Linked DNA regions of Homo sapiens: region 2 is linked to region 1. The links come from fine-mapping of genetic effects on gene expression. A gene starts in region 1. The other region holds a variant in brackets. All regions are shown on one strand. Distances are from middle to middle.

Region 1 (8,066 bases):
AAAATAAAAATACATATTAGGTATTTAATCAATGTTAAATGTCTTAGCTGTGATTACAGTATTTTGGCTACATAGAAGGATGTCCTTAGGAGTAAGGTTTCATGTTGTCTATATTTGACTTTCAAAGGATTTCATTCAATAAGGACAAGAAAAATGCAGATACAGAAGTGTAGCACAATGTTAATAACTGGTAAATCTAAGTAGAGGGCATATACCAGGGCTCATTTTACTAATCTCTTCTCTTTACTGAAAGTTTTTTTTTTATTATTATTACACCAGTAATCCCAGCACTTTGGGAGGTTAAGGTGGATGGATCGCTTGAGTCCAGGGGTTTGAGACCAGCCTGGGTAAAACTCCATTTCTACAGAAAATTTTTTAAAATTAGTCAGGGGTGGCCGGGCACGGTGGCTCACACCTGTAGTCCCAGCACTTTGGGAGGCCGACGTGGGAAGATCACAGGGTCAGGAGTTCAAGATCAGCCTGGCCAACATACTGAAACCCTGTCTCTACTAAAAAATACAAAAAATAAGCCAGGCCTGGTGGCAGGCGCCTGTAATCCCAGCTACTCAGGAGGCTGAGGCAGGAGAATTGCTTGAACCCGGGAGGCAGAGGGTGCAGTGAGCCAAGATTATGCCATTGCACTCCAGCCGGGGCTACAGTGTGAGACTCTGTCTCAAAAAAAAAAAAATTAAAATAAAATAAATAAATAAATATATATATATATAAATTAAAATGAAAATATAATGCAGCAAAAGAAGTAAGACAGAAGAGGTAAGGTGTCTTGCCTACCTTAGTCACACAGAGGCAGTGGCAGAACTGGTATCAGGACCTTTACCTCTGCTATCCCTACAATTATCTATCTATATTTTTCGAGACAATGGCTCACTCTGTTGCCCAGGCTGGAGTGCAGTGGGACAATCTTGGCTCACTGTAACTTCAACTTCTCGAATAATCTGTATCTTTGTCATAAATGGAAAGTTAGAGTATCACTCACTAAGGAGACAGATGAGATCACAGCACACTACAGCCTTGAGTTCCTGGCCTCAAGCAATACCCCGGTAGGCAATCTCCGCCTCCCGGGTTCAAGCGATTCTCCTGCCTCAGCCTCCAAGTAGCTGGGATTACAGGCGTGCACCACCACGCCCGGCTAATTTTTTGTATTTTTAGTAGAAACGGGGTTAGCCAGGCTGGTCTCGAACTTGTGACCTCAGGTGATCCACCTGCCTCGGCCTCCCAAAGTGCTGGCATTAGAGGCGTGAGCCACTGCACCCGGCCAGGCACCACCACTCTTGAGGGCAGAGGCTGGCATCTTGTTGCATTTGCACAAGGAAGCTGTGGGTACTGCTTCCTCACTGTCTTGTTTCCATACTCCCCAATCTTTTCATGACCCATCCCCATTCCTACATTTAATCACACACATCTCAGAGTGCTAGGGCTTTATTACAAATGGAGTTGACTGCTAGAGAGGCCCTTCTCCAATCTTTCTTCTGTACCTTCTTCCCTCCCAAAGACATCCCTCTAGGGGAGGTCAGTAGGCCATTAGGTAGGAGGAAATCTGGAGAGTGAAAAGGGGCCTTGCTTTTGTCAAAGTCCTCTGAAACAACCACTGAGTCTGAAGGCTGGCTCCAGTTGAGAATCTTCTAGTGGAAGAGGTTTAGCTCTCATCTTCAAGGTCCTTCATTTCTACATCCTGGGGGGCTTTTGTCTTCTTTTGCCTTTTGAGCTGTGGTTCACTAGTCCTGGCTGGCTTTGAAGGGGCTTCCACTGAGTAAAGGGAAGAAGGAAGTATTATCCCAAATAAATCCAGGATTCCCCTCACCCACCTCTGTCCCAGCCTCACCTTCCATGGCTGTCTTCTCTTTCTGGGCAAGCCGGATCTGCTGGAGGAGTTTTCTGCGCTTCTTCCCTGACAGTGTAATGTTGGCACGTGCACTGGACCTGATGGGTAAGTGGAAATAAAGAGAGCTAGGTTAACCTGAACCAACTGAGGTCACACAAATAGTTCTGGCTATAGAAAAAGTATTAAATAGGCTGGGCGCAGTGGCTCACGCCTGTAATCCCAGCACTTTGGGAGGCCGAGGCGGCTGGATCACGAGGTCAGGAGATCGAGACCACGGTGAAACCCTGTCTCTACTAAAAATACAAAACATTAGCTGGGCGCAGTGGCGGGCGCCTGTAGTCCCAGCTACTCGGGAGGCTGCGGCAGGAGAATGGCGTGAACCCAGAAGGCGGAGCTTGCAGTGAGCCGAGATCGCGCCACTGCACTCCAGCCTGGGCGACAAAGCGAGACTCCGTCTCAAAAAAAAAAAAAAAAGGAAAAGTATTAAATAAATATAATATAAATAGTAATAGAAACCCTAAATATTTACATTGAAGAAGCTAATGAAAGGACATAGATCGGGGGCGGTGGCTTATGCCTGTAATCCCAACACTTTGGGAGGCTGAGGTGGGCGGATCACCTGAGGTCAGGAGTTCAAGACCAGCCTGGCCAACATGGTGAAACCCCGTCTCTACTAAAAATACAAAAATTAGCCGGGTGCAGTGGGGAGCACCTGTAATCCCAGCTACTCGGGAGGCTGAGGCAAGAGAATAGCTTAAACCCAGGAGGCAGGGGTTGCAGTGAGCCGAGATCATGCCACTTCACTCCAGCCTGGGCAACAGAGGGAGACTCTGTCTCAAAAAAGAGGAAAAAAAAAAAAAAAAAAAAAAAGGACACAGAAAGTAATTAATGGGATGGGAACTCTTCCTCAAGACACAGGAGGCCTTGAAACTTACAAGTGAAATCCTATGAGTGCCTTTGGGAAAATTCTTCGAGTTTTATGCGCCTATGTGTGCACTTTTCTGTATGTAAAAATAAGTTTACTTATAAAAATCTGTGTGAATGTATAACATTACTTGGAGAATGGAGAGCCAACAGATTTCCTGATATTCTTTTTTTTTTTTTTTTTTTTTTGAGACGGAGTCTCACTCTGTGGCCCAGGCTGGAGTGCAGTGGCGTGATCTCGGCTCACTGCAACCTCCGCCTCCCAGGTTCAAGCAATTCTCCTGCCTCAGCCTCCCGTGTAGCTGGGACTACAGGTGCCGGCCACAACGCCTGGCTAATTTTTGTATTTTTAGCAAAAACGGGGTTTCACCATGTTGGTCAGGCTGGTCTCGAACTCCCGACCTCAGGTGATCCGCCCACCTCAGCCCCCCAAAGTGCTGGGATTACAGGTATGAGCCACCATCCCCGGCTTTCCTGAGATTCTTAACAGAATCCAAAACCCAAAGAAAGGTTGTCTGCTACAGGTATTGTGAGAGGCTATCAGAGCTTAGGAACTAACAGCCGACAGACATTCCCCGCATAAGCGTCAGTGCACAAGGTGAGCTGAGAGGTGAAGCTGCTCCGGAGCTCTGCAGGGAGGAAGGAAGACTCGGTGGGGACGACCAACAGGAAGAGGGTCTAGTACTTACGCCCGCTTCTTGAGGTGGTGCCGCGTGATCAGCCCTTGGTCTATCACAGCCCCGACCACCCGGTGCCTCAGACGCCGCTCCCGATTCAACACCCGCCGGCGTTTGAACAGCTTCTTCTTCAGCTCCTGCCGGGGAGAAAGATGCGAATCAGATGGAGTGGGCTCGCCGCGACCCGGGGCCCCTCCACCAGGCAGCCCCGGCCCCTCACTGATCCCATCTCGTGCGAGATAAAAGGGCTCAGGAACGCTTGAGGAAACAAAGTCGCGGCCCCCACACAGTCACCGTTCGGGGCCGGTTGATCTTTCCCCCCGGAGCTCCCATAGTCGCGATTCCACTCCAGTTCACGGTCCGTACTTCCGCTCAGCGCCGGATCCGCGGGGCTCCGCCCCGGCCTTCCGCGGGCCAATCGCAACTCGGGGGCGGGTCCTCGGGCTATATAAAGGAGCTCCGCGGTGCGGGAGGCCTTTCGGAGGGTGGTGAGCTAGTAAGTGTGGTTTTAGCTGTAGTAGCCAGATTGGGCGGCCGGGAGTGGTGGGGGTGCCGGGTGGAAGGCTCTGGGCGGGGTCTCAGGACCCTCCTTTTCTTGGCGGGGATCGGGCTTGTGGTGCCGCTCCCCGTAATGTACGGAGGAAGAGGGAAAGGGCTCTGGCCCCCTCGGCGTCATGTCTTCGGTGCTGGCGGCTTCCCATCCGCTGGTTCTATCCTCAAACGCCGGGACACCGGGAATCTCGGAGAAGGACAACCGAGATCCAGCTGGCTCCTCCATCGGGGTGCTCACACTTTCTCATTTGATTTCAGGTCTGCGGACGCTGTATACCCTCCTCCACTTCCCGCTGCAGCCAATAAAGGCCGTTCCTACCATAGTCTGTGTCCGCGTTCTTTTTTCCGGGACTGCAGAGTTCGGGGAAGCTGTACGCCGCCTTTCGCTACGCGGAATTTGCAGATCTTCCCCTGGACCTCAGGCCTCTCCGGCTGGAGTAGGGTGGACGCTTCACATAAGCTTCTCTGGTCGAACTTACCCGAATCTCCAGATGGCCGCGCTGCGTCGAATGCTCCACTTGCCGAGCCTGATGATGGGGACGTGCCGCCCCTTTGCGGGTAGGGAGGTGGGGGCAGAGTGGAGAGGGCAAGGTGGGGGCAGAGTGGGGAGGGTAAGGTGGGTTCCTCGTGAGTCAGGAGTGTAGTCCCTGAAATTGTGATTCTCAAACCCTACGGTGGGCCGTGCGTGGTGGCTCACGGCTGTAATGCTAACACTTTGCCAGGCCGAGGCGGGCAGATCGCTTGGCCCAGGAGTTCGAGACCAACCTAGGGCAACATAGCGAGACCCTGTCTACAAAAAAAATTAACCGGGCACGATGGCGCCTATAGTCCTAGCTACTCAGGAGGCTGAGGTGGAGGCTTCAGTGAGCCATCATTGTGCTACTGTACTCAACCCTGGGTCACAGAGTGAGACCCTGTCTCAAAAAAAAAAAAGACGCCAGTGTGTATATACGACGTTTTTGCAGTGGCGACATAGACCAAGTGACACCCTCCAACCGTGCCCACAGGCTCACTGGCTGATAGTTGCCTGGCGGACCGCTGTCTCTGGGATCGGCTGCATGCCCAGCCTCGTTTGGGCACTGTCCCCACCTTCGACTGGTTCTTTGGATACGACGAAGTCCAGGGGCTCCTACTGCCATTGCTGCAGGAGGCACAGGCTGCCAGTCCTCTGCGAGTGCTGGATGTGGGCTGTGGGACTTCCAGCCTATGTACAGGCCTCTACACCAAATCTCCACACCCAGTGGATGTGCTGGGGGTGGACTTTTCTCCTGTGGCTGTGGCCCACATGAATAGCCTCCTGGAGGGTGGCCCAGGCCAAACACCTCTATGCCCTGGACACCCTGCCTCAAGCCTCCACTTCATGCACGCCGATGCTCAGAACCTGGGGGCTGTGGCTTCTTCAGGCTCTTTCCAACTACTGCTGGACAAAGGCACATGGGATGCTGTTGCCCGGGGAGGTCTGCCTAGGGCTTACCAGCTTCTATCAGAATGCTTGAGGGTTCTAAACCCTCAGGGGACCCTGATTCAGTTCTCAGATGAGGACCCTGATGTGCGACTGCCCTGCCTGGAACAAGGGTCCTATGGCTGGACTGTGACTGTGCAGGAGCTAGGCCCGTTCAGGGGCATCACCTACTTTGCTTACTTGATTCAAGGCTCTCATTAAAGACATTTTAGTAGTCCTGACCCTAGTATTTCTGTGGGCAAGGAGAGGGCTGAAGAACTGTCTTTGCAAGCTATCTGGCTGCAAAGTGAGAATTTGAGTCCTGGCTTCCACATTTACTAGCTGGGTGCCATATTGCTGAATGTTTCTGTTCCCCAGTTTACTCATCTGCAGAGTGAGAATAACTTGGAGTTACGGAGATTACATACAATGATGTGCGCAATATTTAGCACAAAATGAATGCTGAAAAGAGAAGGTACAATTGGGTCATTCCCCAGTTTCAACTAACTGGAGCTCCTAAAAGCAGCAGACAGGAACTGAATCAAAACCCCTGCGCTGACTGACTTGTATAATCTAGTGGCCTAACCTGTAAGCCTCATTTTTGTCACCTGTAAAAGGAGATTGTAAGAGGATGGGTATAAGGAGCTTCATAAACCTGGATGAGATATTTGAGGGGGAGGGAACAATACTTACCCTCAAAGCTATTAGGAGGCAGGAGATGGGAATATTCCACAAAGCCACTTCTACAAACACGGGAGCCTGTTGAGTCCCAGAAGGGACAGTGGTTGGTGGCTTCCAGACATGCTGTGTCCTCAAGAATCCAACAAGCATCTTCTTCATCCTGGTCCTGCCCCCAGCTGAGTCCAGCGTTAAATGTTCTTAAAGGACTTCTAGGGTCCTGTGGGCTCCAAGCCCAGCCTGGGATGGAGGAAGAGAGGGGACAAAAATATTACTGATATATTATCAAATTACAAAACTAGGCCAGGCATGCTGGCTCATACCTATAATCACAGCACTTTGGGAGGCCAAGGTGGGCAGATTGCTTGAGCCCTGGCAATAAAGTGACACCCCTAACTCTACAAAAACAAATGAGCCCGGGATAGTGGCACAGGCATGTAGTTCCAACTACTCAGGAGGCTGAGCTGGGAGGACTGCTTGAACCCTGGGAGGTCAAAGCTGCAATGGGCCATGATAAGCTGCTGCACTTGAGCTAAAAATTAATTTCTGTGGTATTTTTTGCTTATAAAAAAATAGAGCAATTATATCACTAAGAGCCTAACCTCGCAGCCTCAATTTTCTCATTTATAAAGGGGAAGTACCTTCATTGGGTTGTTCTGAAAATCATGAAGTAAAAGTGTTTAGCATAGTACCTGGTACATAGTAAATGCTCAAAAGAATGTAGCTTCTTGGGAGGCTGAGGCGGGCAGATTGCCTGAGCTCAGGAGTTTGAGACCAGCCTGGGCAATATGGTGAAACCCCATCTCTACTAAAATACAAAAAAAATTAGTCGGGCGTGGTGGCCTGAACCTGTAGCCCCAGCTACTCAGGAGGCTGAGGCAGGAGACTTGCTTGGACCTGGGAGGCAGAGGTTGCAGTAAGCCGAGATCCTGCCACTGCACTCCGCCTGGGCAACAGAGGGTGACTCTGTCTCAAAAAAAAAAAAAAAAAAAAAAGTAGCTTCTGTAACAGTACACAGACGGGGCCGGGCGCGGTGGCTCACGCCTGTAATCCCAGCACTTTGAGAGGCCCAGGCAGGCGGATCACAAGGTAAGGAGATCCTGGCGAACAAAGTGAAACCCTGTCTCTACTAAAAATACAAAAAAATTAGCTGGGCGTGGTGGCGGGTGCCTGTAGTCCCAGCTACTCGGGAGGCTGAGGCAGGAGAATGGCACGAACCCAGGAGGCAGGGCTTGCAGTGAGCAGAGGTCATTGCCACTGCACTCCAGCCTGGGGGACAGAGCAAGACTCTGTCTCAAAAAAAAAAACCAAAACCAAAACAAACAAACAAAAAAACAGTACACAGAGATGAAAAAAGTCTAGAAGAGAAGGTATCGAATATGTAAACTATTTTTAGGTAGTTGGTCTTGGGGTAATTTTTTTTGTTTTTTGTTTTTTTTGAGGCAGAATCTGGCTCTTGCCCAGGCTGGAGTGCAGTGGTGGGATCTCAGCTTACTGCAAACTCCACATCCCGGGTTCACGCCATTCTCCTGCCTCCCGAGTAGCTGGGACTACAGGCGCCCGCCACCACGCCCGGCTAATTTTTTGTATTTTTAGTAGAGACGGGGTTTCACCATGTTAGCCAGGATGGTCTCGATCTCCTGACCTTGTGATCTGCCCGCCTCAGCCTCCCAAAGTGCTGGGATTACAGGCGTGAGCCACCGCGGCCAGCCTTAATCTGTACTTTCAAAATGTTTACATTGCTGCAGGAAAAGATAAAATTACCCCAAGACTGGCCGGCTTGGGAGGCTGAGGCAGGAGAATGGCGTGAACCCAGGAGGCGGAGCTTGCAGTGAGCTGAGATCGCGCCACTGCACTCCAGTCTGGGTGACAGAGCGAGACTCAGTCTCAAAAAAAAAAAAAAGAAGAAAAAGAAAGTACAGATTAAAGGATGGCACCCATTCTGATACCAAAA
Region 2 (8,000 bases), 35 kb before region 1:
CATCATCCAGAAAGAGCTCTCCTTGAGCTGTACCCTGAGCAAGAAGTGGGATAGGTGAGCGCCTGAGCCCAAGAGGGAGTGAGGGGCACAACCCCAGAGAACTGAGTCCTAGGAAGGCAGGCAAATGGCTGAGGAGACTCGCTGCCTATGCACTTACCTGAGGGCTAAGTGCAACAAAGAGAGTGATGGGGTCATCCTTCATACATTCTGAAGACCGCCGCACTCGCATCCATCGAGGCACGATTGTCCCTCCACGCTGGAACACAGGGATCTAGGGCAAGAGCAATGCCAGGATGAAGTTGCCCCCTTGTCCAACCTTGGGCCCCACAGCATGTTTTGCTTACTCATGTATGCCCACATAGGTACTGGACCCTAAGGCACACATTCCCTCCCCTTCTGGAAATTTACAGGGAGATGGAACCGGCAGCCAGACCAGGCTTACTCACACTGCTTAGAGTTACAGGCAGGTACAGGGTCTGGGGACCATGATGCTTCTGGTAGCTTTGAATGTCATACCACACCTGTGAGTGACAAAAGAGGTAAGATACCGGATCACTCAGTGCACAGGGGTCCCGTCCTGTTTGCCTCCTTTGGCTTCCACCATCTTTCCCCACCATGCCCTTCCTTAACTCACCTCCCCTTGGCCAGGCAGATAGACCTGGACACCATGGGCTCCAGAGTCTGATACAGGGTGAACCAGCAACGCATCCCCTAAAATATGCCAGAATCAACTCTGAATAGGGGGATTAGTTCCCAGAACAGGGAACACCAAAGTGCCTGCCCTCTGCACCACCAGCTTCACTAGTCCCTCCCTGGGCATCCGCAGTGCTGCTTGGCCCAAAGCCAACCCACCACCAACTATCCTCATTTCTCACCAAGCAAGTACTGATCATCTATATTGAAGGTAGTCACATCCTGAGGGTACTGCACCCACAGGGGCCTAGGAAGGAAGAAAGACAATAAAGGAAAACTTTTCAATTTTGGCACAAGTCAGAAATGCTCCTCCAGGAACTGGCAATAAGAAAAGAACAGCATAGGCCGGGTGTGGTGGCTCACACCTGTAATCCCAACACTTTGGGAGGCCGAGGCGGGAAGATCACCTGAGGTCAGGAGTTCGAGATCAGCCTGAACAACATGGTGAAACCCCGTCTCTACTAAAAATACAAAAATTAGCCGGGCATGGTGGCAGGCACCTGTGATCCCAGCTACTCAGGAGGCTGAGGCTGGAGAATCACTTGAACCCGGGAGGCGGAGTGCATTCAGTGAGCCAAGATCACACCATCGCACTCCAGCCTGGGGGACGAGAGTGAGACTTTGTCTCAAAAAAAAAAAGAAAAGAAAAGAACAGCACAGGGGTTAAGACCCAGGAGTTTGCAGTCAGACAGTCGGGTTGGGGTTCAGGTCTCAGTTATACAATCCAGTCTTAGACATTTAACTTCCTAAGCCATCTCCCTGCTTCTTCTCTGCCCTCTACTGAAACCATGCTGCACAGCAGCCTGCCAGTAGCCTCCTTGCATGTTTCACCGCCCTGGCTTACAACCCTGGGTTGCAACCCTGGCTTGCAAGGCCCTCCAGGAGCAGATCACACTTTCTTCTTAATCTCATCTCCTAGCTCTCCTTCTGCTTCTTTACCCAAGACATACTGTTTTTTTCTATTCCTAGTACATAACAAACTAATTTCTCCTTTAGAATTTTTGTACTTGCAATTCCCTCTGCTTGGAAGATTCTTCCTACATAACATGGTCTGTCCCACTCATTCAGGCCTCATCTCACACAGCCTTCTTCTCAAAACTTTTTTTTTTTTTTTTTTTTCATTTTTTTGAGATGGAGTCTCCCTCTGTCACCCAGGCTAGAATGCAGCAGAGCAATCTCGGCTCACTGCAACCTCTACCTCCTGGGTTCAAGTGATTCTCATGCCTCAGCCTCCCGAGTAGCTGGGATTACAGGCGCCATGATGCCCAGCTAATTTTTGTATTTTTAGTAGAGATGGGGTTTTGCCATGTTGGCCAGGCTGGTCTCAAACTCCTGACCTCAGGTGATCTGCCCACCTCGGCCTCCCAAAGTGCTGGGATTACAGGTGTGAGCCACTGTGCCCGGCCTCAAAAAGGGATTTTATGACCACCTAATCCCATTACCCTGTTTTATTTTTCTGAAAGAGCTTATGACTGCTGTCAATTTTCTTTAAATGTTTACTATTATTCATCTCCATTAAGCTCCCCTTCACTCTTGACCTTAATGATTTTCCATCCTTTACAAGGCTGTAGTGAGTGAAGAAAGAGACCCAGAGATGAAGCCCAGTCCCTAATACCCCCAGCCACCTCAGCCCACTCTTCACAGCCCAAGTGAATGCCTCACCTCATGACAGGAATGCCTTCCCGATGGGCCTGATATAAGAGGGTGTACCAGAAGGGCAGCAAAGAATATCGCTGGCCCAAGGCATCTCGGATTATATCATTGTGCTGAGATGGTAACAGCCATGGCTCTCGTCGCCCAGTGTCCAAGTGGGCATGTGCCCGGAAGAATGGCTGGTAAGCACCCATCTGGTACCAGCGCACAAGCAGCTCTGGCTCTGGGTTTTTGAAGAAGCCACCCACATCCGCTGGTAGAGGAGAGAGAGGAAGCAGGTTGGAAAAGAGGGTGAAGGAGAGATACTGCTTGAGAAACTTCCCAAGGCCCTAACTTGGACTCTCAACTCTCTTTGCTTACAACACCTTGGTCCTGTGCCCTCTACTTTGCCCCTTTCCCACCAAACCAAGACCCCAAATTCCTCCCTGTCTTACCCCCACAGAAGGAAAGTCCCACCAGCCCCAAGCTGAGACACATAGGAATAGAGATCTTCAAATGGTCCCACTCGGCAGTGTTGTCCCCTGTCCACACGGCTCCTGAGGAAGACAAGAAGTGGGGAGCTTGCACATGGTAAAGGAGTTCAGCTTTTTACATGGCTGACCTCCCACATCCGCTCTGGGTCCCCAGAACCCTGCTGAAGATGCAGTTCACAAGAACATTTGAACAAGGAGTGGACCTCCCACACCCTGACTTCCTTCAAAGCGCATAGCTGAGAGGAAACAGATGCAGTGTGTGGCTCCCATTCCTCAGAGAGGCAGGTCCAGGTCCATGGCTCCTGAGATCTGGCCTTCACACCCTTCTGCCACAGCTCCATTCTCTAAACCTTACCAAAGCGCTGGGAGCCAGCGAAGAAGGCCCTGGCCAGGACAAAGGGGCGTTCCATGCCCCCAGAGCGCTGTCTCAGCCCATCAGCAGTCGCCATGTGCTGGGTGAGGAGAGAAGAGA[C/G]GGGTAGTGAGGAGCAAAAGCCAGCTGTCATCTGGTGCAAGTTCCCTAGGCCCTCAGTCTCTGGGCTGTTTTCCCTCTTTCCACCAACTCTCCTCTCTCAGGCCCTTACCACATAAAGGCCATAGATGTTATGCACATCCCGGTGCTCCCAGCCCCCATAATGCTGGGCATCCTTGAGCATGGTGACCTCAGGACCATTGAACACAGATGGTTCGTTCATGTCATTCCAGACAAAGAGGTTGGGAGCTGAGCCCTGGGAACGTGGGCAGAAAATGGGGACAGAAGGACAGAGGGGAGGAAGAAGACAAACAGTGTCAGAGAAGAGAGCTCCTAGGAATCTAAAAAGATGCATTTTTCAGGGCCCTCCCCGGATCATCAAGGCCCCCTGATATGTTGCAGGCAATCAACCATAGAAGGGTTGGCAAGCCGAGAGAGATTCAGGGAGGCAGGTGGAACAGACAGACGCAGGTCATGGGGAGAGGCCTTCCCTACCTCATAATTGTCATAGCTGAACATGTTAGCCCACCAGGCCCTCATCGTGGGATTAGTGAAGTCAGGGTAACCAGCTGAGCCTGGGAGAAGTTAAGGGTGGCTCTCAATCCCCTAAGGGGCAAAAGAGCCACCATTCTACCCCGCTGGCCAATCAACTCTCCCTCAATTCTGGGTCTGCTTACCTGGCCAGCACCAGCCCTCATAGTCAGAGCCATCCCGGGTTTTAACATACAGCCCCAGGTTCCGCAGCTCCTCGTGAACTCGGTAGCCGGAGTCCACCTTGATGTGGGGGTCTACGATGGCCACCAGCTGGGGGCAAGGAACAGGGGTGTTCAGGTCTCTTTAAGGCTAAACTATGCTTCAGCCCTACCCTGAGAAGACCAAGCGTGACTGCAACCCCTTACCTTCCGCCTCTTAGAAGCCAAGCGCTCAAGCATGGTGCGGGGCTGAGGGAAGCGACTGGGGTCCCAGGTGAAATACCGCTTGCCATCAGCATGTTCAATGTCTAGCCAGATGACATCACAGGGCAGGTTGTGATCATCAAAGCCCTGATCCACTTCCAGCACATCAGCCTCGTCCCGGTAGTTCCAACGGCTCTGGTGGTAGCCGAGGGAGAAGAGTGGGGGCAACGCCTGGGTTCCTGCAGGTTCATGAGGGATGGGGGTCACAACGAGGATCAGGCCCAACACCCAGAAACTGAGGGAGGCTTGTGAACTAGAGGCAGGCTGAGGGGTATAAACCTAGAAAACAAGCTGGGGCACAGGATCTCTGAAAACACATAGAATCACCCGACAAGAAAAGAGCAGAAGAATGAGGCAGGGAAAACCATGTACCTGTGAGACTAGCATATTGCCGGAAAACATCAGAGATGGAGGGCCCCAGCAGCAGGAAGACGTCAATGATGCCAGTCTCTGACATCCAGCGAACATCTGTCTGTGGGGTCTCCCCAGAGCCCTGCAGGTAGTCCATCATCTTCCCAAACAGGGTCTGTATAGGTGACCACAAAGGGGTCAGACACCTCCTGCCCTCCCATTTTCCAACCCCAAGACAAAAAGTAGCAATTTTCTCCCAGAGTCCACACAGAGCTGGCTCATGTAAGCTGCTTTCGGTAAGACTAAACGGGGCCTCTTCAGTGAGGCTTTCCTAGACCACACTATCTAAAGCAGTACAGCCCCCACCCCTACCCCACCAGTTTGGGGTGGTTAAGTGCTAACAAAGACTCTCTTTCATGTCTTTGTTAGCACTTAATCACCCCAAACTCATCTTGCATTCTTTTTTTTTTTTTTAGACAGAGTCTCACTCTTTTGCCAGGCTGGAGTGCAATGGTGTGATCTTAGCTCACTGCAATCTCCACCTCCCCAGTTCAACCAGTTCTCCTGCCTCAGCCTCCCGAGTAGCTAAGACTACAGGCGCACACCACCACACCCAGCTAACTTTTGTATTTTCAGTAGAAACAGGGTTTCACAATGTTGGCCAGGATGGTCTCGATCTCTTGACCTTGTGATCTGTCCACCTCGCCCTCCCAAAGTGCTGGGATTAGAGGTGGGAGCCACTGCACCCGGCATCATCTTGCTTATTATTTTTATTTTTCAAACGTTTTTATAGAGATGGGGTCTCGCCATGTTGCCCAGGCTGGTCTCGAACTCCTGGCCTCAAGCGATCCTCTTGCCTCAGCCTCCCCAAGTGCTGGGATTACAGACATGAGCTATCATGCCCGGCCCCATCTTGCCTCCTTTGTTATGTGTTTAACGTGTCTTCCTCCCTGTGAGTCAGAACCTTTCTTTTTTTTTTTTCTGAAACAGAGTCTCACTCTGTCACCCAGGCTGGAGTGCAGTGGTGAAATCTCCGCTCACTGCAACCTCCACCAACCAGATTCATGCAATTAACCTGCCTTAGCCTCCCGAATAGCTGGGATTACAGGAGTCCGCCGCCACACCCTGCTAATTTTTGTTTTTCTAGTAGAGATGAGGTTTCGCCATGTTGGCCAGGCTGGTCTCCAACTTCTGACCTCAGGTGATCCGCCCACCTCAGCCTCCCAAAGTGCTGGGATTACAGGCATGAGCCACCACACCCAGCCCAGAACCTTTTCAACCTCAGTTAACACTATATCCCCAGCACCCAGAAGAGTACCTAGCACGTAACACACTGATAATAAGTGCATTCCGTCAGCCCAGAATAGGCAATGCCTTCCCTAAGAATGTGAGTGAGCGTGTCACCTGGGAGTGATTAGGGAACTCAAATGCTGCCCACCAGGCCCACAGCCCCTTCTTAAACCCAGTCCCCAAATAGCTAATGCCCCTAGTATACCTATTTGCCTCAAGGCCTGGAAGCTTCACTCCCTCCTTTTTCCCCGTGCCTGTGCTCTCACCTTCCCGGCAGTGTTGGAAGATATATCAACCCAGGTCTCTGCAGCATTGAGCCAGAAGATGCCCAAGTCGCGATGAGGGTTGTGTGCCAGGAGCACAGGCACAGACCCATACAAGGCCATTGGGTTGTACAGCTCATACTGGAACACATCCAAATTGTAGAGGCGATATGGCTCCCCACCCCTGCAGGCAAACAGACAGACTTGGGCTGCTAACTGGCCCCAGGCTGCGTTATATGCTAACACCACTCCACAGACACAGGTGAGAGATAAGCAAAGGCTCCTCTTGTCCTTTCTCAAAAAATTTTCTATCACCAAAGGTGATTCTGGACACAAGAAATGACCCATGCTTGCCTAGAGTATCCAATATGCACACCCATCTCCCTAAAGGCCTGACTCCTTCCTGCCCACCTCCATCTTCCTGATGTCACCATAGGACTCACTCAGTGACCTTCAGCCTCAGGTTGTCTGCATGCTCAGGGATCCCATAGACATGCTCCATGCCTGGCAGAGAGAAGTCCAAACCCACAGACATGGGGCCTGGAAGAAAAACAAACAAGCTTCAGAGCTTCTGCTTGGAAAGGAGCCCTGCACCCCAGCCCAAGGAACCCGAGCCCCTCACCATACGGCTTGCTGTCAGAGTGAGTTTTGAATGTCTCCTCCCAGGCTCCTGGCTCATCTTTCTCTGCCTTCCCCTGAGTCTCCTCTGGCTGTTAAGAAGAAAAGAGGACCACTCTCCAATCATACCAGTTCTCTCTTTCCCCGCTCCCATCAACTAAATCCCATCCCTGATGGGGAGACTAAGTTCAAGTTTCTCATGGGCCTCTCCCCTCCACCCTCCCAGCCAGCCCTATCCTCCAACCACCCACCCGCTCCAACTTGCCTTGTCGCCATCCCTGGGTGTTTCCTCAGGCTGGGCCCCATCGCCCTCAGCTGGGTCTTTTGATCCTTGCCTGGAAGGTAGGAGAGCTGTCTGCTCCAATCCAGAGGGGGCAGGGACGAGGGGCTAGTGGAAGGAGGGGTTGGGGAATAGAGAGCCAAGGGTCCAAAGGAACGAAGGCATTGGAGGAAGGGACTAAATGTTAAAGCTTGGAGAGGGAACCCACAATGAGCAGATAAGTTTGCAAAGGATGGGGAGAGAAATGAGAAAGGAAAATGAGGAATAAGTGCCACCAGGAGGCACAGGCCTGAACACCAGCCTCTGTCAACATCCCAGAAGAGAAAGGCAGAATGATTCAGGGGCCTGGGTTATGAATGCCAATCCTGGCTCTGTTGCCTCTACTGAGAGATTCTGGCCCCAAGTGCTCTCCCTGGGCCTCAGCCTCCTGGCCTGACACAATGGCTTTGCAAAGGCATGTGGGTCATACTATACCAAGCCTCTACAGACATACATAGGGACTTCAAGAGATTCTGCCAAAAAATGCTTTCAAGGGCAAGTAGCTCTGCCCAGAACCTCAGGTGCCCCTCAGCTGAGAGTCAGGAACCCCAGCAATAGGCAGCATCTCTCCATCCCCTGGCAAAGCAATAAGCTCCCTACATTCCCGAAGGACCTGACTTTCAGTATCTCACCTTCCTTCTTCTGGGGGCTCCCAGCCAGGGTAACAGGTAACAGGACCAGACATCACACAGCAGGGGAAAGTGGGGTGAGTGAAAGGCTGGAAGGGTCTGGGGCACCTCCCCCCAAAGGCTAGAGTGAGGAATGGGTAAGGGCAGAGGAACAGATACAGTACCGGTGGCCATGGATTTACCTAGAGAAAAGGTTCTTGATCTTATCCCATATGCTACCAAGCGTGAGATTAACCTTATCCGAGAAACTGGGGCAGGAGGAGATGGGTAGGGAAGGGGAAAAAGA

The links.
Region 2: its variant is fine-mapped to the expression of CSKMT in whole blood (TOPMed, PIP above 0.99). The same link has a PIP of 0.9 or more in lung.

The regions. Positions count from the first base shown.
Region 1 is chr11:62,661,396-62,669,461 of GRCh38, forward strand. CSKMT (citrate synthase lysine methyltransferase) reads left to right here and starts at 3,917. Exons shown (of 3, transcript NM_001043229.2): 1 at 3,917-3,937; 2 at 4,252-4,551; 3 at 5,001-6,713. The coding sequence starts at 4,485. The coding sequence ends at 5,656. It overlaps LBHD1 (LBH domain containing 1), which reads right to left. Exons shown (of 7, transcript NM_024099.5): 4 at 6,128-6,352; 5 at 3,454-3,578; 6 at 1,841-1,938; 7 at 1,422-1,764. The coding sequence ends at 1,734. It overlaps C11orf98 (chromosome 11 open reading frame 98), which reads right to left and starts at 3,815. Exons shown (of 4, transcript NM_001286086.2): 1 at 3,736-3,815; 2 at 3,454-3,578; 3 at 1,841-1,938; 4 at 1,422-1,764. The coding sequence starts at 3,774. The coding sequence ends at 1,655. SNORA57 (small nucleolar RNA, H/ACA box 57) reads left to right here and starts at 4,027; the gene lies at 4,027-4,175. RefSeq lists enhancers at 4,035-4,264, 4,935-5,044, 5,095-5,144, 5,165-5,264.
Region 2 is chr11:62,626,414-62,634,413 of GRCh38, forward strand. GANAB (glucosidase II alpha subunit) reads right to left here. Exons shown (of 24, transcript NM_198334.3): 6 at 7,032-7,101; 7 at 6,771-6,858; 8 at 6,592-6,688; 9 at 6,152-6,332; 10 at 4,617-4,770; 11 at 4,188-4,423; 12 at 3,966-4,092; 13 at 3,784-3,863; 14 at 3,401-3,544; 15 at 3,175-3,271; 16 at 2,781-2,882; 17 at 2,356-2,599; 18 at 876-940; 19 at 635-711; 3 more. Among named protein-coding and RNA genes, the nearest start is that of B3GAT3, 8.4 kb to the left of the region's middle. The variant C/G (reference allele first, on the strand shown) is at 3,292.